2 separate regions of the Homo sapiens genome follow, and region 2 is linked to region 1. Evidence: fine-mapped expression QTL. A gene starts in region 1. The other region holds a variant in brackets. All regions are shown on one strand. Distances are between the middles of the regions. Region 1 holds the start of LMCD1-AS1 (LMCD1 antisense RNA 1). Region 2 holds the start of LOC107986009 (a long non-coding RNA gene).

What was found. PIP is the estimated chance that this variant, and not a neighbour inherited with it, causes the effect.
Region 2: its variant is fine-mapped to the expression of LMCD1-AS1 in nasal epithelium (TOPMed, PIP above 0.99).

What each region holds. Positions count from the first base shown.
Region 1 is chr3:8,498,267-8,510,258 of GRCh38, forward strand. LMCD1-AS1 (LMCD1 antisense RNA 1) reads right to left here and starts at 3,392. Exons shown (of 4, transcript NR_033378.1): 1 at 3,205-3,392; 2 at 284-583. It overlaps LMCD1 (LIM and cysteine rich domains 1), which reads left to right and starts at 3,557. Exons shown (of 6, transcript NM_014583.4): 1 at 3,557-3,714. The coding sequence starts at 3,673. RefSeq lists enhancers at 211-1,144, 1,145-2,078.
Region 2 is chr3:8,603,393-8,615,384 of GRCh38, forward strand. LOC107986009 (a long non-coding RNA gene) reads right to left here and starts at 8,551. Exons shown (of 5, transcript XR_001740420.3): 1 at 8,466-8,551; 2 at 7,836-7,967; 3 at 5,665-6,200. RefSeq lists enhancers at 7,286-8,167, 8,168-9,048. The variant A/T (reference allele first, on the strand shown) is at 7,450.

The sequences.
Region 1 (11,992 bases):
TTCCTGTTTTGCTTATAATCAACCATCTGCAATCATTATGGAAGCAGTGCAGTATAGGTGAAAGGGTGCAATCTGAAGTTAAAAACTCTGAATTTAAATTTCAGCTCTGCCACTTGCCAGCTGTATGACCTTTGATACAGCCCTGGGACTGTTTGGGATTTCTGTTTTCTCTGAGACTAGTTGTCTTGGAGTTCAAGTAAGATTAGGGCTCTGTCAACCAGGGAGCCCCAGAAGTAGTTATTAGACCAATATGTTCTCCAAGGAGAAGAACTCTTTTATTTACCTTGATGTTTCCAGCACCTATCAGAGGGCTTGGCTTATGGCAAGTATCCCAAAACTCCTTGATAGATGAATGAATGCTTCTAATAATCCCGTGTCAAAAAGCGATGATCCTTGGAGAAATCAGATCTCTACTCTTTCAACTAGGAAAAGATATCCAATTTTCTTCCAAAGAGAAGTGAAGAGGACCTCAGAGCTGGAGTGAGGCTCAGGTGCAATAACTACATTTCCCTCATTCTCCTGAAAAGTCCCAAGTTGTAATGGTCTGTCCAGGTGTCCGGTTAAGTCTCTGAATATAGGTCCCCTGGAACAAGAGGGTCAAGTGTAAGGTTTAAAGTGTCAAAGTCAGAATCCTCAGCTGAGGAGACAGCAACTTCTAGCAGATAGCAGGGATCCCCTCTCTGCCTACAGCAGGTCTTTTTCCAGAAAGAAGGGAATGAGCCACCCCAAGCAACAGCTCCTGACACTCGTGTTCTGAGAAATTCTGAGAAACAGCTGCAATATCTGCCTCCTTAATTGTACCTGGAGCCAAGGGTAAAAATAAGGAGGGGGAGAGACTCTTGTGGTTGGAGCTATTAATAAATAGTGTTAACTTAATAAAATTAGTATTATTTCATGGAACAATGATTTTTCAAGATGGGGCAAGGAGGGTGGCTGGGAAGGGAGTGGGAAATGACTTCACTGGGCAGGCTTTTGCCTCGTTTGAAAGGGATAAAGCTTGCCTTTGTTATATTCCTGGCTTCTGTTCCCACAGCTCTAAAATATAAAGGCTTCTGGCATGACATCCTGATTTAGCACTATTGTTCCTAGGATTTGCTACTGAAAGGACTATTCATGTGGAAACCTCCTCTCCCAGGCCAGGCTTCTGTTGGCCACTGTTTATTTACATACTGGTTTAACATGCAGCCTACCTTGGAAGTTTGGACAAACCAGGCCAGGTGTGCCATTGCACCATCTCTCCCTATTCTTACTTTGCCTGCTTACTGCATGGAGGTAGAGAGTAGAAGAAGGTTACCAGAGGTTGGGAAATGGTGGGCTGGGGTGTGAGGGGATGAACAGAGGTTGGTTAATGCGAACAAACACTGTCTGATAGCAAGAAAAAGTCTAGCATTCAACAGCACAGTAGGGTGACTATAGTCAACAACAGTGAATTGTATACTTCAAAATAGCTAAAAGAGGCTAGGTGCGGTGGCTCACTCCTGTAATTCCAGCACTTTGGGATGCCAAGGTAGGAGGATCACTTGAGGTCAGGAGTTCAAGACCAGCCTGGCCAATATGGTGAAACTCTGTCTCTACTAAAAATACAAAAATGAGCCAGGTATGGTGGCTCATGCCTGTAGTCCCAGCTTCTTGGGAAGCCGAGGTGGGAGACTCACTTGAACCTGGGAGGCAGAGGTCACAGTGAGCCGAGATCGCGCCACTGCATTCCAGCCTGGGCAACAGCGCGAGACTCTGTCTCAAAAAAAAAAAAAAAAAAAAAAGAAAAGCTAAAAGTGATTTGACATGTTCCCAGTACAAAGAAATTATAAATGTTCAAGGTGATGGAAATCCTAAACACCCTGATTTGATCATTACACATTGTAAGCATATATCAAAATACCACATGTACAATCATGATGTATCAATAAAAAAAATAAAAGCCAGAACCCAACCTCTATTCATTTGCCAAATGTGTACTGTGCCTATACCACATGCTAGGTGTTTGAGGACATAGCTGGGAGCAAACAAGGCAAAAATCAATTATAGCAGAAATCTGTGAAAAAAGAAATAGGTCATCCCTCATCTTGGAAAAGATAAGCCACAAAAAGCCCTTTCCAGGAATATGTAATAAAAAGTCACAATTCAGGATCCCTGGCTGAGATTTGGGATGACTGGAGATGATGATAAGAACTAAATTGGAGGAGGCTTTCAAGAGGAAAAAGCCTCCAGCAAGAGACAGCCCCACAGTGGGAACTGCAGCCTCCCCTTCTCACCAAATCCCTCCCGAATGGTGTACTTCGGGACCACTCTTCAGTCTCTGTGCAACCGAGTTTTATTTTAGCCCACGGGACCCTGGTTTTTCTGGCAGGGGGCACTGCAAAGACGGGTTACAGGCCGAACACCTCACAACAGAGACAGCAGTATTCTCTCTAGGATAAAAAGGGCTTGTGTTTAATCCTCTGTCAGGGCAGGGGGGAAATGCCTCTGGAATCCAAGTCTGTGGAACCGGCTCAGCAGAGAGATGTGGCTTTATAGGCAAACAACGTGGCATAGAGAGAGGAACCTGGCCAATTCTGTCTTATAAGAGTAGTTATGTTATGCGTTGCAAGGACTCCACATTCCATGGATTTGTGAACTCAGATGGAATCTTGTTTGTCCAGGCCTGCATGACCCCATTTATCTAAAAATTACTAACTTCCTAGTTTATAGTTTACAATCCTGTGCCCGCCGCCTCCCTCCCCCCCCCCGCCACGCCCCCATGAGCTTTCTCTCTATTACTCTCAGTCTCTCAGGTTAAAGCCTTGCTCAGTAATTCAGCTGTGGACCAGTTATTCTGATTATTTCCTCATCTATCGTCTTACAGTCATAATAATAATAATATCTGAGATAATATGAGCATACAACAAGACAGTATGTCCACAGGAGCATCTCTAAGATCAGGACAGTGATTTCTTGCTCATGGAATAAGAAGGATTTATGTTAAAGCAAGTTATAAGAAAGCAGTTTAATACTTTACGAACGTTAAGTTTAAAAAAATCATAACTCGCTGGAATCTTTTCTCCTCTCTGGATATTGGAGAACTCGCCCAGGTTTGGGAAACGTTAGCCAGCTCCTGCAAAACACCTCCTCCCTCAGCCCTCCCCGCGCCCCCTACGACCAGGCAGAAAGGGTGGGAAGGGGAGCACAGCTCAGCATTTATTTCTGGATCCAGCTCACTAAAAATACCTCGGCTCTCCTGTTTGATCACTCTCCCTTTTGACCTGAATGGATCGCGGGAGCCGCGCCGCCCGCCCCACCTTCGGCCCGTTGCCCTTTAAAGGAAAAGGGCGTGGGGACGGATTCCTGCCGCTCGAGGGATAGAAGGGAGCTGGGTAGTCAGGGGCCGCGGCCATGCTGACGTCAGGGCAGCCGGCGCTCAGCTCCGCTCGCTGCCACAGTGCAGAGACCTCCCTGAGGGAGGGGGACAGCCTCGCGCTGGGATTGGCTGGCCTCGCGCGAGCGCCGGCGCGGAGTGGCTGGCGAGGTTTTAGAGGGAGTCCCGCTCTCCAATTAAAGCGGCCCAGCTGCGCCTGGCTGCGCACAGAGCTCCCTCCCAGGCCCGCGAACTTGGCCATTCAGCCGCCGCTGTCCCCGCTGCGCGCCCTCGCGCCTCTGCCTGAGAAGCCAGGCGCTGTTCCCCCACCCCAGAAGAGGATGGCAAAGGTGGCTAAGGACCTCAACCCAGGAGTTAAAAAGGTGAGTGGAAAGCTGTTTGTATTTACCCAGATTCTTACTTTTTCTTGTTCCCCTTCCCATCTGTTCGCGGAAACTTCCCAAAAGGTAATGAGAAGGGAACTCTTTAAATTCCAAAACTGCATGGAAAACAAATAGTTGGGAATACATGTTTGAGCTAACAGGCACACACACCCCAAACCCAATGTTGTGTAAAATATTTGCAAAGGGTCTTATGTCTTTGGTGATGCTAGTTAAAGTTTAATTAAGGTTTTACATATATATACAATATATATAAAATGTATATAAAATATATATATAAAATATATATAATATATATTATATATAATATATAAAATATATATTATATATAATATATATTATATATAAAATATATAATATATATTATATAAAATATATATAATATATATTATATATAAAATATATATAATATATAATATATATATATGAAATCTTATGGTCTGTAAAGGAAAAACCCCTAGCTTCCTCACTCCCTGTCCTCAGGTGGCTGAAGTAAGGGTTGAGAGCATGTAATATTTACTCACAGTCTCCCTTTTGCTATTATCCCAGTGTTTTGTGTGTTTCCCCCAATACACACACACACACACACACACACACACACACACACACGCACGCAGTTTCTTTAGTTGGTGATGTTGGCAGTGGCAGCAGTTCCAGCATAAGGGAACTGATTTCTGTCCCCAGGGTCTGCACGTTTCCCTTACAAGAAGGGCTGGCCCGGAGCCCAGAAGGTCATGGGTAAACTCCTGCACAGGAGCCTGCGGCTGTGCCTATAGCTCCAATACCACTTGTTGCCTACCTGAATGCAGCTGGGAGAAGGCACAGGCTGGAGACTTAGAGAACATGTGAACGGGAAGGGAACAGAGAGACAACCTAGGCTTTACAGATCGGGAAACTGAGGCCCGGGGTCACAGAGAGTTGGTTCTAACAGGCAGCTGACTGTAAGGCAAGCCCTAGGCATCCAGACTCAGTCCCTGCCACTTTTTAACTGCACATGATTCACCAGGTCACTTTTCTGAGCCTCAGTTTCCTTGTCTCTGATGTGGGGAGGATAGGCCTAACCTCCCTCATGGCAGTGGTAGCAGGGATACTGACACTGTGAGTTAATTTCCCAAAGCAGTCATTGTTAAACTCTGATTTCACAGGGTTTAGTCTTGAAGGGCAAAGTCTTCCTTAAATATCTGCCATTAACCTGCAGGGTAGAATGAGAGGGGGAAAAACAAAAGACGTGAGAATCAAACTAAAGACACAAACAGCCACTCAGAGGCACAGCATGCACTGTCTAATTTGTAGCTGTGCTCTTCTGTAGACCACCTGCCCAGACCCTGTCACAGAGTCCAGTGGATCCTTCTAAATGTGGGTACCAAGTCACATTGAATCTGGGCATTTGTCTGGAATGTATCATGCCTCACTGCATTTGCCAAGCTATTTGCAGAATCAAGTCATTTCCCCTCCTACAGAAATTACCATAACATTTTAGACTCTTAGAAGATACCTATTAATTGCTACCTAGTAGTGAGTTATGCATGCAATGCTCTTATTTCTCTATACATTTTTCTGGACTCCTTGAGGGCAAACCTGTCTTGTTCATCCCTGTTTGAACATAGCACACCATGCCACACAGCAGGACTCAAAAACCTGTGGGTGACTCATGAGAATATCTGTCCAGCTAAGACCACACTGTTTGCATAGGCTTCATTTTATGCATTATTTTTTAACTTGTAGCATTGATATTTGTGTGTCTGAACTGCCTCCCCAAGTTCAGACACAGAATAGTTCACGGCTAAAGGTGGCAGAGTTCCATTGTCCTCTGGAAAGTGAAATGATTCTGAGTATTTTTAATATAAGCTGGTTGATAGTTACTGTATGAGGTGAGATGAGGTATATGGAGACTCCTCCTCCTCACCACAGTCCTGTGTTGCCACTTGGAGGAAGCCTTGTTTTTATTTTCCTTTGCATAGGGGAGTGTGATTATCCTGATTAGAGGTGGAACATGTTCTCCTTCTTGTCACCCCCTAGTGCCAACTTCCTTGGCCTGCAAAGGGTTTGTTTTCCATTTAGATCCAATTACAGGCTTAGAGAAAGAATGTGGTGGGTAGAGATGAAAGGGCAGATTTTTTTTATCTCTTGGGACTGCGACAATCAGGAGGAAGATCACCATTTTGTAGGTTAACCAATGCCTTCAACTCAAAATGTGGAGGGGAGGGAGGAGAGCCGAGAAGCTCCCCTTGCTGAACTGAATGTCACAGAAGTGATTAAGTACTACGTGATATCAGCAACACGCTGAAAAGCTTTTACTGCATATTTATTTTTTAAATCTGCAACAGTATGTGGGGGAGGTTTATAACATTTGGCTTCAGGATGCATAATCGCACTTAGACATTTTGAAACAATTTCATAGACTCTTAGAGCTACAAGGGGCCTATTTACAAAATGAGAAATGGTTTAAAATGGCATACAGGCTGTTTCCGCTTCCCTACCCCCGAGGGGGCTGGGGCGGGAATCCCCACCAACTGGAAAGTCATAAAAAGATCTTCAGCAAAGAACATAAAATCTAAAAACTGGAGTAGACTTAAAGGTCATCTAACCAACCCCAGACAGGCTGGGGAAAGAGACTCACTGGGGGCCACATACATACATCGTGGCAGAGCTTACAAGTTCCCTAACTTCTCTCTTTCTTTCTAAGTAAAATGCTTCCACCGGCTGCTCTTGAACCATCTTTTTTTTTCTATTAGGAAAGAGAAGGTTTCCTAGCACAGACAGTTCCCTGAGAATGGTGAAATCGCCAACATTTCTTGGTAACAAAGGGCCTTGAAGGCCAAATGCCATTTTTCTGGGTGAAACCAATCTCGACTATGGATTTGTTCTTGTTTATTAAGGATGCAAGTTATTAGTGCAGGCTTTGGCTTCAGATCTGGTTTAAGTCCCAGCTCCCCCACTTACTAGCTGTGTGCTCTTGGGCAAGCTAATTAACTTTGAGTCAGTATCCTCACCTCATTTGAAAGTTGAAGAAACAGTAACAGCATCTACCTCCCAAGATGGCTGTGATAATTAAGTGAGATGATGTACATAAAAGGCTCAGCATATGGGCACTCAGAGTTAGCCATGGCAGTCCTTGGTGGTGGCGGTACATTTCAGTGGGTGCATGGATGCGGAAAGGAATTTTCTGGTGAATGAGGACACTTTTATTTATAACTGCCCCATCTGAAGAGCACCTAACTTTCATTCAGCTGAACCTAAGCCATTGCTCAGCTTTGACAAGCTAAGACAATGACCAAATGCTGTTGCCTTCATTCTCACCCAACGGGTGCAAAATCTGCTTACATGGAACAGTCTTTCCTTCTGAACATGGATTGCCAGTTATTGAGCATTTCACTTTGGAGTTATATAATGTTAGGCCTCGAAGGGGACTTGGAGTGCCTTACTTTTTAGATAAGGAAACTGAGGCCCAGAGGGATCAAGCTCCTTATCAGAAGTTGCAGAGAAAATGTACTGAAGCCTATTAGGCTCTGCAAGAATACAGACCCCTTGACTGTCAAGGAACCATCTGTAGGAATTTAGAAGGGATTAGAAGAAAGAGAGCTAGGAACCTGTTCATAGTTGACTGTGCAGTCACCAGTGGGCTGGCTCCAGAGGGATCCAATTAGAAATTCTCACCCCTCAACACAATGCCCAAGGGGCATTAAATGATGGTACTTCTAAGTCCATTGCCAGGTCCACCTGGATGTCTCTCTCCATGCTTCTCTACATCACATCCCTCTTGGCTTTCCTGTCCTTCAGGCTAGGCCTTCCCTCTGTACTCAGCCCTTCCTGCTTTCACCTCCACTTCCTGCAGTGTGCCAAACTACTGGCACATCACCCGGGTGAGCTGATCCAATGTAAACACAGCTCCTCGTGAATTGTCGTTGGCTCTCTCAATCTTAAAAACATATTAAACTGTCACTTAAAGACCTTAATAGCCAAGACATTGGAGACATGCCCATAGGTGTATAAGCAACTTTTTTGCCATAATAGAGCCTTGTTTTTTAAAAACAGAAATTATCCAAGTCCCTTTTACATGCTTTCTAAAAACAGATGCTGAAACCATTACTTTGTGAATTGCAGATTTTTGTCCTAAGCTGCAGGTGTGTCTGACTATGCGGAGTTGGGGGCTGACAGTTGACTTTCACCAATGTATCTGCCACTGTGGTAGTGGGAGGCAGGAAAGAGCTTCATCAGATTATCTTCAGGCTTTAATCTAAGCATCTCAGCTCCAAGGCTAGGAATTTGCTCAGAGCTTACCAACACTCCTACGAGTTGGAAAGTGGAAAAATGACTTTGGCATTCCCCTCTGAGGATGCTTGGTTTGATCCTCTCTTCATGCTAACTGACCAAAGGTGACAAGGATGAAAAAAGAATAGGCTGAATTCAGCAAAGGCTGGGGACCAGGAAGGAGGGGCTGCACACAGGCTTTTGTGTGTGTCTTTCCTTCCGCCCTTACGCAGGCCACTTCCCAAGAGGAAAAGGTAAAGAGTAGAGAAGTAAGGGAATAGTTCCTCTCGCAACTCACTAGAGCTGACAGGGCTCCAGGAGAAGTATTCAATTTGACTTTAGGAAGGCAAATCGTCCTCTTTTTAGCTTGCACATTCAAAATAGTTTGTGTCTCATAAAGTGGAGATTTGCCTTGATAAGTAACAGACCTTGAGAGCTCTTATCTCCCAACCATTCATCCAACACCATTTAAATCTTTATTTTAAGAACAGATTTCTGGCAGGGGCGTGAGTCATTATAATAACTGCAGGCGTTTACTCACTGGGTGACTTTGGATAGGTCACCTTTCCTAGGAAGTGGCAGAATTTGGATGAGAACCAGGGTTCCTTCTGCCTCCAGCCCACTGACTTTTCCTTTACACCAGATCATCTCCCAAATAACAAATGATTATGACAAAATAGGCTTAAAACTTCGTTCCACTGAAAGCGGAATTGTGGAGCAGCTTTTCAGGACATCCAAAATGAAGAGACAGCTGTTGCTCTTGAAGAGCCTTCGTTTAGAAATATCCTCATATCCCCTACCATTTGATAACAGGAAGAGGATTTGGCCAGCAGCTGCTACTGTCTCACCAGGTGCAGGGCCACCAGCCACTTTTGCAGGACTCCTTCAAGAGCACAACATTTCCTTAAATCCACGTGGAACAATTGGTGTGTCCCAAACCATTGTTGGATGTTTACATATAGCAATAGCATAGATCTGCAAAAGCTCTAGAAAATGCTCTCTATAAAACTTTTATAGAAAGAGTTACATATGAAGTTGAGTCTCCTGTGTTCACCAAGGCTCCTTTAGTGGCTGAAACACAAATTTAGTATCTAATCCTGTATATTTGATGCAGAAATTGTGTTTTCACAAAAACAGAAGAGACAAATCAATTGTAGTGCTTTGTGAAACTCCCAAATCAACTCCTTGTCTCATATCTGCTCTTCTGTATGAGAAGCAAACCCTTTTACATTTTTTTCTCAGAAAAGAGAAAGGAGTCTGTTCTTACTTTTATTATCTATTTGGATTCTTGCCTCCCAACAGACTTGTTCTCTGTTAGGACAGGCAAGTTTGGGGCTAGGCAAAAGAGAGGAAGGAAAGACATCTCTAAGGGTCCGGAGATGATTGACATTTTCCTGTGTGTTAGCTCTTTAGCTTCAAGGACTACCATGCAAAAATATTGGTGTCCTTTTTTACACATGAGTAAGTTAAGACTAAGAGTTTGAAACGACTTGTCTAAGGTCACATAATGACAGATTAAGAACTCAAACTCAGGCCTCTCTGACTCCAAAACTTCAGTTCTTTTCACTCTGCAAGAAACAGAAGGCATTCGTAGAAAGCAGAAATCTGGTGAGGAGGGACTATGATTATTACTGTGACTTTCATACACAGATCAATTTCTTCCAGCCCACTGAACTCATTGATAGTCTGGTTCAGAAGCTTCCCAGCATTTGCAAAATGTTGCTAGGCACCTGTATCTCTTTGATATCTCTTGGTCACCACCAGGAGTATACTGTCACCTACACCAAATCAGAGCCATTTCTCGGGTATAGAATAAAGACTTTCTTGATTTCTCCTGGTTTTCCAGAAGGCTAATGGACATCTCCCGGCAGAAGACTAGTAGAGAGACCTTTTAAAGAATAATACATGTTATCCTAATACTCTAAAAATAATTCTAGAGACCTTGTCCCAGAGCTTTCAGGAAACTCTGCCCTGGGGATAAGGTTGGCCTTGACATGTGCATTTCTACATGTCTAGTCAGCCTGACCCATGGCCTACCCAATAATATATAAATCATGACCAAGCCAAACATGGCCTGGGCCCCCACCGGGACATGCTTTAAAAGGAAATATAATTGCTAAGGGAGAAGAAACAAAGGCTCCATTTGGCAAGTAACTCTATTGAAGGACAAAGGAGTGCCAGTGTCCAACTCAAGGTGGCTGTTTCAAATCCACATGCTTTGTGTATAGATTTTGTCTCCTCCTCCTGTTTAAAAAATATTGAATCCTTTGTAAAATTTATCTCTGGAGACAAAGGCTAATGAGCCATTGTCTAAAAGAGCTGAGCAGAATCTTGTTATCTGCTCATTCAACCCCTTCATGTCACAAATGGGACAGGGGGAGAAATGGCATATCTGAAATTTACAAAGAAAAAAATGGCACATCTGAACTTTACATAAGAAATGGCATATCTGAAATTTACAAACTTACATTTACATGAGTGGTGCCACAACCAAGATACATTGACTCACAGCATCTTTTATGAATGAAGGAGAAAAGAGTGTCTGCTGTATTCTGTCACTTCCACCCCCAGAGTATCCCAGTTTTGTGTCAACCTCATACCTTGAAACTCAGAAGTTCAGGTGGACATTTTGGCTGTGAACTTAGCTTTGGCCACAAGGTCCAGAAGCCACTTCGAGGAGCCGTTAAACACACAACATTTGCAAGCACAAAGATCTAGATGTGACCTGCAGCTCTTCAATTTGCCAGGTCTGCAAACTTCGCCAAGTTACTGATCCTCTCTGGACCTCTGGTTCCTCATTTGAGAAAGATAGCTCACCGTAGTTCTACATTTAAACGATAGTTTAATGAGGTAAAGTGCATAAAGTGCCTGGATACATAATATACCCTTGATAAACATTTCCTCCTGCTGTTATGGATACCCCCTCTCATCAGCATGATGCAAAAATCCCATAGGTTATTAAGTATTGGGATGTGGAAGACCAAATTCAGTTTACCTACATCACATGGGGCTTCTAAGCTCTCAGACTGCAGGACCTTCTCTTTGTAGTTAAACTTGGACCTAGCCATAAATATACTCAGGCCACATCACATTGCAAAATCATGAGAATAGCCACAATTCGTCTTGGGTGTTTGGTCGCTACCCTTTCCATAGCAGCCCTCCCCTGCTCCATTACCAGTCTTTCCCTCCAATGTCTTGCTTATAAGATAGGGCAACAGTCACTCATTTCTTTATATAGCAAATATTTATTTAGCATCTGTTATGTGCCAGCCACTGTGCTAAGTACTGAATACATGACAATGAATAGGAAAGCTTTGATCCCTGCCAAGTAAACTTGAGTCTGGTAGAATTTATTTTTCATAAGGCAGGAGACAGGCCAAATAATGTCAGTGTTCTGTGAGTCTTTGTGTTCCTTGACCTCTCCCCTCCCCAACACACACACATACCTCTCCTTCCTTTTCCAACCACCCTCAGATTTTCCAGGACACACACCTTCAGAGCCACATCTCAACTCTGGTCATCCCTACAGTGTAACAGTAGAATGAGTGTAGTAGTCCTCCCAGTTGTCACATTTTAAATAGGGCCTTTGGGAAGAAACCACCAGTGGCACTGAGTGAAAAGGAGGCTGAGGCAAGGGGGACTATTGGCAGCTCTTAGGTCCCACCAGCAGCCAGTGGTCCCTCAGCCTTCCTACAGCGATACAGTGGTAGACCAGTTGTCTTTGCTCAGCATATGTTTTCAGAGGCAGCTGAATGTTTGGGTTGTATTTTTCACAGTACTGATGTCAGGGACACCAAAGGGCAGGAGCATAGGGAAAGGGCTCTTGGCTGACTAATGACCTCATAAGAAACCTGCCCTTAGAAGAGAGCATCTGTTTGGGCTGTATGACTCAGTGGCGTTTCTAGGTACTGATTCATGAGGCTGACCATCGAGGTGACTGACCCGTGCAATCTGCTGGCTGAAAGAGGTGAAGGCAAAGTAGATCCCAGCTCTGCCCTCATCCTGGAGG
Region 2 (11,992 bases), 110 kb after region 1:
AGTAGGCACATATTACTCTTGGAACCCTCACGCACACCGTGCGCTCACTAATCGGCATGGGGTCACCTTTAAGACCAATGGAAGTGAAACCCGGAAGCAAGGCAAGGCCTGGGGGAGGGGCTGGGATCTGGAGTGGAGCCAATGCCTGGAAGCAAGCCCCTACTAAACTCCATGCATTGAGACACACACTGTCCTAGGGGACTGGCAGGAGAAATGTTTTTAGCACACTAAGTCCTCACTTAACGTCTTTGATAGGATCTCTGAAACTGAGATTTTCAGCAAAACAACATGTAACAAAACCAGTTTGACCATGGGCTAATTGATATAAACAAGAGTTAAGTTCCTATGGCATAATTCTGGTCACAAAATCATTCCCAACTTCTAAAGAAAGACCCAAAACACTCTAATAGCAAACACTGAAATAAATGTAGGATACACATATATCTAATAAATATTAATAAAAACAAGTAAGAATTATTTACTAAACTTTTGGTGAATCAGTGAGTGAGTTAAATCAAGGAATAAATATATGCAAAGCAAACATTGTCAGAAGCACCTCCTACCACCACTCAGTTCAAACACCAACAGTCACAAATACGGTGGCTTGCTCAGCGCTTTCGTACCAAATTGTTTATTGTTGTGCATTTGTAGGATTATTGTGGACTTTATGAATTATTATTTTATAATAATTCATGCTCATTCATTTATTCATTTTCCAACTTGCTTACTCCAGGTCAGGGTCGTGGGTGGCTAGAGCCGGTCCCTGTAGCTCAGGGCACAAGGTGGGAACCCACCCTGGCCAGGACACCATCCTACCTTGGGACACACTCACTCACACACCCACACAGACTCAAACTGGGACAACTGAGGGCGCCCATTCACCTGCAGCATATCTTTGGGATGTGGGATGAGACTGGGGTACCCAGAGAAAACCTGCGCAGACACAGGGGAACGTACAAACTCCATACACACACAGTGGCCCCAACCGGGAATGGATTTTTTTTTCATCAACATTACAACAAAACAGTGTTGAACAAAATGACCATATTTGAGGGCCTGCTGTACCAATTTCCTGGAAAGCAAGTCATCAATATTTATCAGGACTCTGAAAAATGTTCATGTTTTCTATCATGCTGTAATTCCACTTTTAGGACTCTAAATGAAGGAAATAATTGTACGTGAACACAAATATGTAAGTACAGGGTTTGTATACATTAGTTACATACATATATAAGTATGTATCATTAACTATAATAGCAAAAAATTAAAAATTAGAGACCAAAAAAGTAAATGCCACTATTATGGGAATGATTACGAGTTGGTTATATAAACAAATTATGGCAATCTATGTGACAAAATAAGGAAGTTCTAAAAATCACGTTTACAAAGAATGCTTACTCATAATGCTAAGAAAAAAATGTAGAAAACAAAGTTATAAGAAGGGAATGACTGCAGCTATATTGAAGAAAAAAGCCTGGAAGGAAATATGGTAAATATGAGTTGTGTCTAAGTGGTAAGATTCTGGGTGATTTTTACTTTATGCCATATTTTTAAAATATTTTGTAATGAATCTGAATTACTTTTGTAATCAGAAAAACAGAGAAACATCTTTTCAATCTCAGCACCCCAGAACCCTCCTAGCTGACTTGCCTAGACATGGCCTATAAACACTCGGGCTCAGCATCTGATCTCGGACCAAGGCATGTTTTTACGTTTCTATGGCTTTCTCAATGCTGCTGTCTACTTGACCTGTGACCTTGAACCTCTTATAACCTCAGTTTCCACATCAGCAAAATGGTCACATCAGCAGTTCTCAATCTCCTACCTTCTGTGTCTTCAGATCCTAGTTGTTCCCAGTCTCAGTTAATGAAAGACCTCTCCATAATGGCCTAAGGGGCCCTAGCCTGGGTGAGCTCCTGGGACTGCTCTGATATTTTTTTTTCACACTGAAGTATGTAGATTTTTGTTGTTGTTGTTGTTTATATACTTTAAGTTCTATGGTGCATGTGTACAACGTGCAGGTTTGTTACATATGTATACATGTGCTGTGTTGGTTTGCTGCACCCATTAATTCTTCATTTACATTAGGTATTTCTCCTAATGCTATCCCTCCCCCACTCAGCCTCGAAGTTTGGAGTTGCAAACGGGAATGGCTTCAAGGGGCAGCCAGGCTGCTGGGATATTCCCAGACAGCTCCCAAATGTGTTTGCTTTAACCTACAAGCCAACTCTTCCCTAGTGTGAACTTGCTGCTCAGCCGCTCACCCAGGACCCAGAACGCATGTCCTAGACTGGCTTCCATGAGAAAAGCACTCATCCCAAGTGGGTCTGTCAGAGTCCTAGCAGGAAACAGCCATCTCACTCAAACCAGGATTATTTGGGGGTGTGTTCAATGGAGGGAAATTTTGTCAAGGTATGGGCAAGGCTTATAGAAACCCCAAGGGATTATGTGACTCCCTAGAGCTATTAACAGCAGGGGCCAAGGAAGGAGCAGCTTCAGGAACCAGGAGACAGAGAAGGCTGTGGAGAAAGGCCGCTCCATCACGGCTGAGGTCTTCTGTCGAGAGACCCAACCAGCCCAAGGCAATGCAGCAGTTGGGGGATAGGGAAACTAGTATCCCCAGCCTCACTTTTCTCCCTCCCAGGCTTAAATGAAAGCTCCTTGTTGGCCAAAGCCAAGTAAAGCCCCCAACTTAGGCAGTTTGGGCAGCTACAGAAGAATACCATAGACTAGGTGCCTTATAAACAACAGAAATTTATTTCTCCCAGTCCGGAAGCTGGAAGTCCGAGATCAAGGTGCTGGCAGATCTGGTGTCTAGGAAGGGCCTGCTTCCTGGTTTGCAGATGGTCACCTTCTTGTTGTATCCCCAAGTGATGGAGAGTAGAGAGCAAGATCAAACCCTTGCATCTCTTCTTATAAGGGCACTAATCCCGTTCATGAAGGCTCCATGCTCATGACCTGATTACTCCCCAAAGTAAAGTGCATTCATATTCAGGGTTAGGATTTCAACCTACGAATATTGGTGGGACACATTCAGGGTATTGTGCTCCCCATTGGCCAAACCCTCAAAAAAGCCAGAGGGCAAGGAGGTCCATGCAGGACAGCCTCCCAGGGCCCAGTCTAGAGTGGAGAGGGGTCCGGAGAGGATCCAGAGAAGCAAAAAGAAAAGATTCATCCACCAAGCATTTGAGGATTTCTCAACAGTTTCCCCTGACAACGTGGGCAGGTCCATGTCACCCTGCACCCAAGATCTCCCTTGAAAGTTCTCCACCCGGCACATGGGCATGGGCATTCCCCAGGCCCTTCTCTGCAGTGCTGGCTTTCTCTCTCTCTCCTGCCACTCCTTCACACAGTGGTCAGTTTGCCCAATCCAATCACTCCCTTCCCGATGTCAAACTTATCTCTCCTTAATTATGCAGAGTAATTTAGAGAGCATCCTGCCCCCTGTGCCAGAGGATCACCACAGTGTCTCTTCCCGGCCAGACAGTGCTCTCCCGAGAGGCAATCTAGCACGTAGCTTTCTCATCTCATCTCACATTTTTGGCATTCACATTGCACGACTCAAACTGATTATTAGCTGCCAAACCTTGTTTGAGGAGTGTTGCAAAAATAATTTTCCCTAATTGATCTGGATAAACATGTGTCTGTCAATATAAATCCCATCTCTTCATGGATGGTTTGCTGCATCTGCAGCTATCTGCTTCAGGGCAAAACTAAAGAGGATTTTCTGCAGCTGTAAGGGGCAGCCGCTGAGTGGATCCTTCTTTGAGAAAACTTTCTCTGAGCCAAGCTGGAGGAATGAGAAGAATAACCAGATGCTTCGAGCCAGGAAGATTGTCATGTTTGTAAAATCAGATTGGATTTGTTCCCCTGCAAGAATTTGGACTCCCTGTGCCCACCAATGACCACAGAGCCAACGCCACCTGCCCATTGCTGCCCAATGGGCAGACCACACTGGCTTCTGCAGCCCGGGCTGTCCTCATTCACTCTCTTTTTCTCAGGGGAGAGTCTGCACTCTGTACCACCTGGAGAGAGTATGTCCCTTAGAAATAACAGGCATCTTGTCTTCCTCAACAGCCTCCCTGACTGTGAGGCAGGGCGATCAGCAGTGGCTGCTGGGGGCACCAGGAAGGAAGGAAAGTTGGGAGCCTGAGTGTCCTGCCCAGTTTCAGAAAGAACTCAGTCCAGTCTAGACAGAGAATCTCCATTCCAGCCCTTGCATCCTCAGAGGAAACCCTCCAGCCTGGTTTCTTATCAGGTTCACATGTGACATTAAACAGGTCCAAGCTTGCAGTCTTACAAGGAAAGTGGTTGGCTGGGGACACCCGGTGTCCAGTGTGTGCATAAACACTGCCCTGGGTGTTGGTGGTTTTGCTGCCAGGATTCCCCTCCGCTTCTGGAAATGGCACCTGAATTTTCCTGCGGGAAGCGGGGTTTGCCCTCTCCTCAACCAGGATGGGTTTTGATGGGGCAGTTCCCATCCCCTGGACCTGGGCCTGGATAATCAGCTTATTTCAGCACAGGGCCATAGAGACTGGTGTTAGGCTGGCTCAAGCCAGGGTGTTTGGCCCAAGGAGTCTCAGTCCTGGGGCCTTTTGTAGAGCAACCAGGAAAGTCATGAGCTCTTGGCTGCAGGAATGCTGAGAAAGTCATAGCCAGCCTGAAACTAAGGGTGTACCTCTTGCCATTAGCAGGATAGGGAAACGTAGGAGACAGGTAGAAAGAAACATGTTCAACAACATTGCCTGAACCTCTGGGAACACCCCAGCCCAGAGCCAGAACTACACCAGACTTGTCGGTTCTGTGTGCCAGTAAACTGCTTCACCCAGCGTGGGTTGGGTTTCCGTTACTTTCGACCAAGTGTCCTAATGCCCACGTGTACATCTATGTTTTCCTTCTGCTGTTTCACTATTTGTTGGTGGGGTCAGTGACATCTATCTGTCCTCTGTACCCCTACACACCTCCCTCTGTCTGCCTCTGAATGGTCCCGCCCGTCTAGAGCCAGCTGTGTGTTGGGAGGCGAGATCTCAGGCTCAGCCATACCATGTACAGGTGACTGCCTGCTGGCAGGTCTGACATGAGAGTGTGGAAGTGGGGCTCAGAGGCTGCAGGGTCCAGTGCTGGGAGACGCACTCAGAAGGTTCACACCGAGACTGTGCAGTGAAAGGGAGGCAGCGATGGGTTCTAAGGCATGGCAAGTTCACCAGGAGGCACCGATTACAAGACGGGGTGGAGGCCACAGTGAGAGGCTGGCCCTTATGCACAGTTGGGACTGCCAGGGTGGCCAGGGAGGTGAAGACGGAGAAGGACGAAGCCTGCTCTGTGGAGGCACTGGGTGCTTCTTGGCATACCCCAAGCCTCCTCTGGATTTAAAGGGACTCTTTCTTTGATTCCATACTGGAGAACCAGAAGACAGAAGACCCTGGTCCGGCCCAACCTGCTGCATGGCTTTGGGCAGGATGCTCAACCTCTTTGAACCTCAGGTTTCTCATCTTTGAAATGGGTTTCAAAAGAGACGGGCCTCAAAGGACTCCTAAAAGTACGAAACTGAAACGATAGGTGGAATAGAATTGTGTAAACAGGCAGTGTCTCAGTCTGTCTGGGCTTTGATATTGAAGTACTATAGACTGGGTGGCTCATAAACCACAGAAATTCATTTCTCACCGTTCTGAAGGCTGGAAGTCCGAGATCAGAGTGCCAGCATGGTTGAGTTCTGGTGAGGACCCTCTTCCAGGTTGCAGATGGCTGACTTCTCCTGTATCCTCTCCTGGTGGAAAGAGCTAGCTCTCTGGCCTCTTCTTAGGAAAGTTGTTACTAATCCCATTCATAAGAGCTCCACTCTAGTGACTTAATCACCTCCGACAGGCCCCACGTCCTAATGCCATCACCTTGGAGACATGACTGCTGGGAGGACACTTTCAGACCCTAGCAGGCAGTTAGTAGCTGGTGTGGTTTAATAGGCTGTGTTCCTCCATAAGAGAAAGATGGTTCAAAAAAGGCTTTAATGCCTTATCCTTTAGTAAGAATTCACGGTTGTTAGGAGAAAGGATGTAGGATTTTCAGACCAAACGTTTTGAATTTCAATTACGCCTTTCATACTTCCTCTTTTGGAAACGTGGAACAAGACATTTTGCTTTTTTTATATCCATCTGTTTCAACATTTTTCAAATGAGAAAAGGAATCCCAGCTTTCCTCCACATCTGGGGTGGGGATTAAATGAGGGAGAAAGAACTTTGTAATAACAACAAAAATATAAAGTACCCCTTAATGAGCACTTACTTTGTGCGAGGAATTATTTCATTTATGCATCTAAGTCCCACAATGACTCCACACTGTAAAAGTAACAGTAATAATGACAATATGTGACATTGGACTTAGCCGGGCCTGGTGGCACACACCTGTCATCCCAGCTACTTGGGAGGCTGAGGCAGGAGGATTGCTTGAGTCCAGGAGTTTGAGGCTACAGTGAGCCCTGTCGTGCCATTGCACTACAGCCTGGACAAAAGTGAAATCCTATCTCAAAAAAATGAATTAGTAGTAATAATAATTATTGAGTATTTAGTATGTGATATGGTTTTTGGCTGTGTCCCCACCCAAATCTCACCTTGAATAGTAATAGTCCCTACATGTCAAGGGTGGGGTCAGGTGGAGATAATTGAAACATGAGGGCAGCTTCCCCACACTCTTTTTCGTGGTAGTGAATAAGTCTCACGAGATCTGATGGTTTTATAAATGGGAGTTCCCCTAACACATGCCCTCTTACCTGCTGCCATGTAAGACATGTCTTGCTTCCCCTTTGCCTTCTGCCATGATTGTGAGGCCTCCCCAGCCATGTGGAACTGTGAGTTAATTAAACCTCTTTCCTTTATAAATTACGCAGTCTCCGGTATGTCTTTACTAGCCGAGTGAGAACAGATTAATACAGTATGTGCCGGGCTGTGTTCTAAGAGCCTTCCGTTAATTACGTATCTCTAGTCCTCACAACAGGTCTGGGAGGAGTAGGTACTCTTAATACGATCATTTTGCAGATGAGCAGACTAAGTTCGCAGAGATTGATGAGATGGTCTCAGGGCTAGGGTGGGGCTTAGCTAAGATTTATTCAAAGGCAAAAGTTGTTTTACAATTAATCATATACATGTTGTGTGTGTGTATGTACTACATACACCATATCTTGCATAATATGCATTGTAAGTAATTCTAGTCGCACAATGACTGGTAGAGGGGAGGCTCACCCAGGGCTCTACTGGTCACCTTGCCCTGAGCAATGATCACATGCAGGAAGCTGTGGATAGGACCCTTACTTGCCTTCCAAACTGAAGATGTTTCTACTCTCAGGTGTGGCTAAAGAGGTTACCTGGGACCAGTATGAGGAAACTGCCCCCTTGATTCCATTATCTCCACCTGGCCCCACACTTGACACATGGGGATTATTATAATTCAAGGTGAGAT[A/T]TGGGTGGGGACAGAGCCAAACCATATCACATACCAAGTACTCAGTAATTGTTATTACTATTAATTCTTTTTTTTTTTTGAGATAAGGTTTCACTCTGTTGTCCAGGCGGAAGTGCAATGGCACAATTACCAATTACTTGCAAAGAGGCCAAGCTGGCCTCGGCAACAAAGCAACCTGGGCCCACAACTCCTACTGAAGAAGAACAACCCACTTTCACCCAGCAGCTGCTGTGCTGGGACCTCCCAGCTGCAGCCCCAGGCGGCCAAGCTGCTCTCCTTACCCAGCCTCCTCTGACAGTTCCTGATGGAGAAAAGGGGAGCCTGCTGTTGCTGTCAGCTGGTCTGCACATTTGTGCCCTGGGCACCGCTGAGGATAACACACTCACCAGCACACCATGTTGACCGGCACGTTGCATTTCCACCCAGAATTTAAAACCAGGCAGTGGCCTGGCTCTGCACTTCCCGACTCTGTGACTTTGGGCAAGCGATTGAAACCCTCTGGACTTCCGTCTCCTCATCTGTAAAACGGGGATAAAAACAGCCCCTCCTTTATAAGCTTGTTGTGAAGACTTAGGGTCTGACCCTTGAAAAATGGTTAGAATAGTGCCTGTAACTTGGGAAAAGCTTAATAAATGTTTGCCATTGTTAGTACCTGAAGGGATCCCTTAAAAAAGCAAGGAAGTGGGGGAGCAGCCAAGATGGCCGAATAGGAACAGCTCCGGTCTACAGCTCCCAGCGTGAGCGATGCAGAAGACGGGTGATTTCTGCATTTCCATCTGAGGTACCGGGTTCATCTCACTAGGGAGTGCCAGACAGTGGGCGCAGGTCAGTGGGTGCGCGCACCGTGCGCGAGCCGAAGCAGGGCGAGGCATTGCCTCACTCGGGAAGCACAAGGGGTCAGGGAGTTCCCTTTCCTAGTCAAAGAAAGGGGTGACGGATGGCACCTGGAAAATCGGGTCACTCCCACCCTAATACTGCGCTTTTCCGACGGGCTTAAAAAACGGTGCACCACCCACCTGGCTTGGAGGGTCCTACGCCCATGGAGTCTCGCTGATTGCTAGCACAGCAGTCTGAGATCAAACTGCAAGGCGGCAGCGAGGCTGGGGGAGGGGCGCCCGCCATTGCCCAGGCTTGATTAGGTAAACAAAGCAGCCGGGAAGCTCCAACTGGGTGGAGCCCACCACAGCTCAAGGAGGCCTGCCTGCCTCTGTAGGCTCCACCTCTGGGAGCAGGGCACAGACAAACAAAAAGACAGCAGTAACCTCTGCAGACTTAAATGTCCCTGTCTGACAGCTTTGAAGAGAGCAGTGGTTCTCCCAGCACGCAGCTAGAGATCTGAGAACGGGCAGACTGCCTCCTCAAGTGACCCCTGACCCCCGAGCAGCCTAACTGGGAGGCACCTGCCAACAGGGGCACACTGACACCTCACACGGCAGGGTACTCCAACAGACCTGCAGCTGAGGGTCCTGTCTGTTAGAAGGAAAGCTAACAACCAGAAAGGACATCCACACCAAAAACCCATCTGTACATCACCATCATCAAAGACCAAAAGTAGATAAAACCACAAAGATGGGGAAAAAACAGAACAGAAGAACTGGAAACTCTAAAAAGCAGAGCGCCTCTCCTCCTCCAAAGGAACGCAGTTCCTCACCAGCAACGGAACAAAGCTGGAGGGGGAATGACTTTGACGAGCTGAGAGAAGAAGGCTTCAGATGATCAAATTACTCTGAGCTACGGGAGGACATTCAAACCAAAGGCAAAGAAGTTGAAAACTTTGAAAAAAATTTAGAAGAATGTATAACTAGAATAACCAATACGGAGAAGTGCTTAAAGGAGCTGATGGAGCTGAAAACCAAGGCTCGAGAACTACGTGAAGAATGCAGTAGCCTCAGGAGCCGATGCCATCAACTGGAAGAAAGGGTATCAGCAATGGAAGATGAAATGAATGAAATGAAGTGAGAAGGGAAGTTTAGAGAAAAAAGAATAAAAAGAAATAAGCAAAGCCTCCAAGAAATATGGGACTATGTGAAAAGACCAAATCTACGTCTCATTGGTGTACCTGAAAGTGACGGGGAGAATGGAACTAAGTTGGAAAACACTCTGCAGGATATCATCCAGAACTTCCCCAATCTAGCAAGGCAGGCCAATGTTCAGATTCAGGAAATACAGAGAATGCCACAAAGATACTCCTCGAGAAGAGCAACTCCAAGACACATAATTGTCAGATTCACCAAAGTTGAAATGAAGGAAAAAATGTTAAGGGCAGCCAGAGAGAAAGGTCGGATTACCCTCAAAGGGAAGCCCATCAGACTAACAGCAGATCTCTTGGCAGAAACCCTACAGGCCAGAAGAGAGTGGGGGCCAATATTCAACGTTCTTAAAGAAAAGAATTTTCAACCCAGAATTTCATATCCAGCCAAACTAAGCTTCATAAGTGAAGGAGAAATAAAATACAGACAAGCAAATGCTGAGAGATTTTGTCACCACCAGGCCTGCCCTAAAAGAGCTCCTGAAGGAAGTGCTAAACATGGAAAGGAACAACCAGTACCAGCCACTGCAAAATCATGCCAAAATGTAAAGACTATCGAGACTAGGAAGAAACTGCATCAACTAACGAGCAAAATAACCAGCTAACATCATCATGACAGGACCAAATTCACACATAACAATATTAACTTTAAATGTAAATGGACTAAATGCTCCAATTAAAAGACACAGACTGGCAAATTGGATAAAGAGTCAAGACCCATCACTGTGTTGTATTCAGGAAACCCATCTCACGTGCAGAGACACACATAGGCTCAAAATAAAAGGATGGAGGAAAATCTACCAAGCAAATGGAAAACAAAAAATGGCAGGGGTTGCAATCCTAGTCTCTGATAAAACAGACTTTAAACCAACAAAGATCAAAAGAGACAAAGAAGGCCATTACATAATGGTAAAGGGATCAATTCAACAAGAAGAGCTAACTATCCTAAATATATATGCACCCAACACAGGAGCATCCAGATTCATAAAGCAAGTCCTGAGTGACCTACAAAGATACTTAGACTCCCACACATTAATAATGGGAGACTTTAACACCCCACTGTCAACATTAGACAGATCAATGAGACAGAAAGTCAACAAGGATACCCAGGTATTGAACTCAGCTCTGCACCAAGTGGACCTAATAGACATCTACAGAACTCTCCACCCCAAATCAACAGAATATACATTTTTTTCAGCACCACACCACACCTATTCCAAAATTGACCACATACTTGGAAGTAAAGCTCTCCTCAGCAAATGTAAAAGAACAGAAATTATAACAAACTATCTCTCAGACCACAGTGCAATCAAACTAGAACTCAGGATTAAGAATCTCACTCAAAACCACTCAACTACATGGAAACTGAACAACCTGCTCCTGAATGACTACTGGGTACATAACGAAATGAAGGCAGAAATAAAGATGTTCTTTGAAACCAACGAGAACAAAGACACAACATACCAGAATCTCTGGGATGCATTCAAAGCAGTGTGTAGAGGGAAATTTATAGCACTAAATGCCCACAAGAGAAAGCAGGAAAGATCCAAAATTGACACCCTAACATCACAATTAAAAGAACTAGAAAAGCAAGAGCAAACACATTCAAAAGCTAGCAGAAGGCAAGAAATAACTAAAATCAGAGCAGAACTGAAGGAAATAGAGACACAAAAAACCCTTCAAAAAATTAATGAATCCAGGAGCTGGTTTTTTGAAAGGATCAACAAAATTGATAGACCACTAGCAAGACTAATAAAGAAAAAAGAGAGAAGAATCAAATAGATGCAATAAAAAATGATAAAGGGGATATCACCACGGATCCCACAGAAATACAAACTACCATCAGGGAATACTACAAACACCTCTACGCAAATAAACTAGAAAATCTAGAAGAAATGGATAAATTCCTGGACACACACACTCTCCCAAGACTAAACCAGGAAGAAGTTGAATCTCTGAATAGACCAATAACAGGAGCTGAAATTGTGGCAATAATCAATAGCTTACCAACCAAAAAGACTCCAGGACCAGATGGATTCACAGCCGAATTCTACCAGAGGTACAAGGAGGAACTGGTACCATTCCTTCTGAAACTATTCCAATCAATAGAAAAAGAGGGAATCCTCCCTAACTCATTTTATGAGGCCAGCATCATTCTGATACCAAAGCCAGGCAGAGACACAACCAAAAAAGAATTTTAGACCAATATCCTTGATGAACATTGATGCAAAAATCCTCAATAAAATACTGGCAAAACGAATCCAGCAGCACATCAAAAAGCTTATCCACCATGATCAAGTGGGCTTCATCCCTGGGATGCAAGGCTGGTTCAATATATGCAAATCAATAAATGTAATCCAGCATATAAACAGAGCCAAAGACAAAAACCACATGATTATCTCAATAGATGCAGAAAAGGCCTTTGACAAAATTCAACAACCCTTCACGCTAAAAACTCTCAATAAATTAGGTATTGATGGGACGTATTTCAAAATAATAAGAGCTATCTATGAC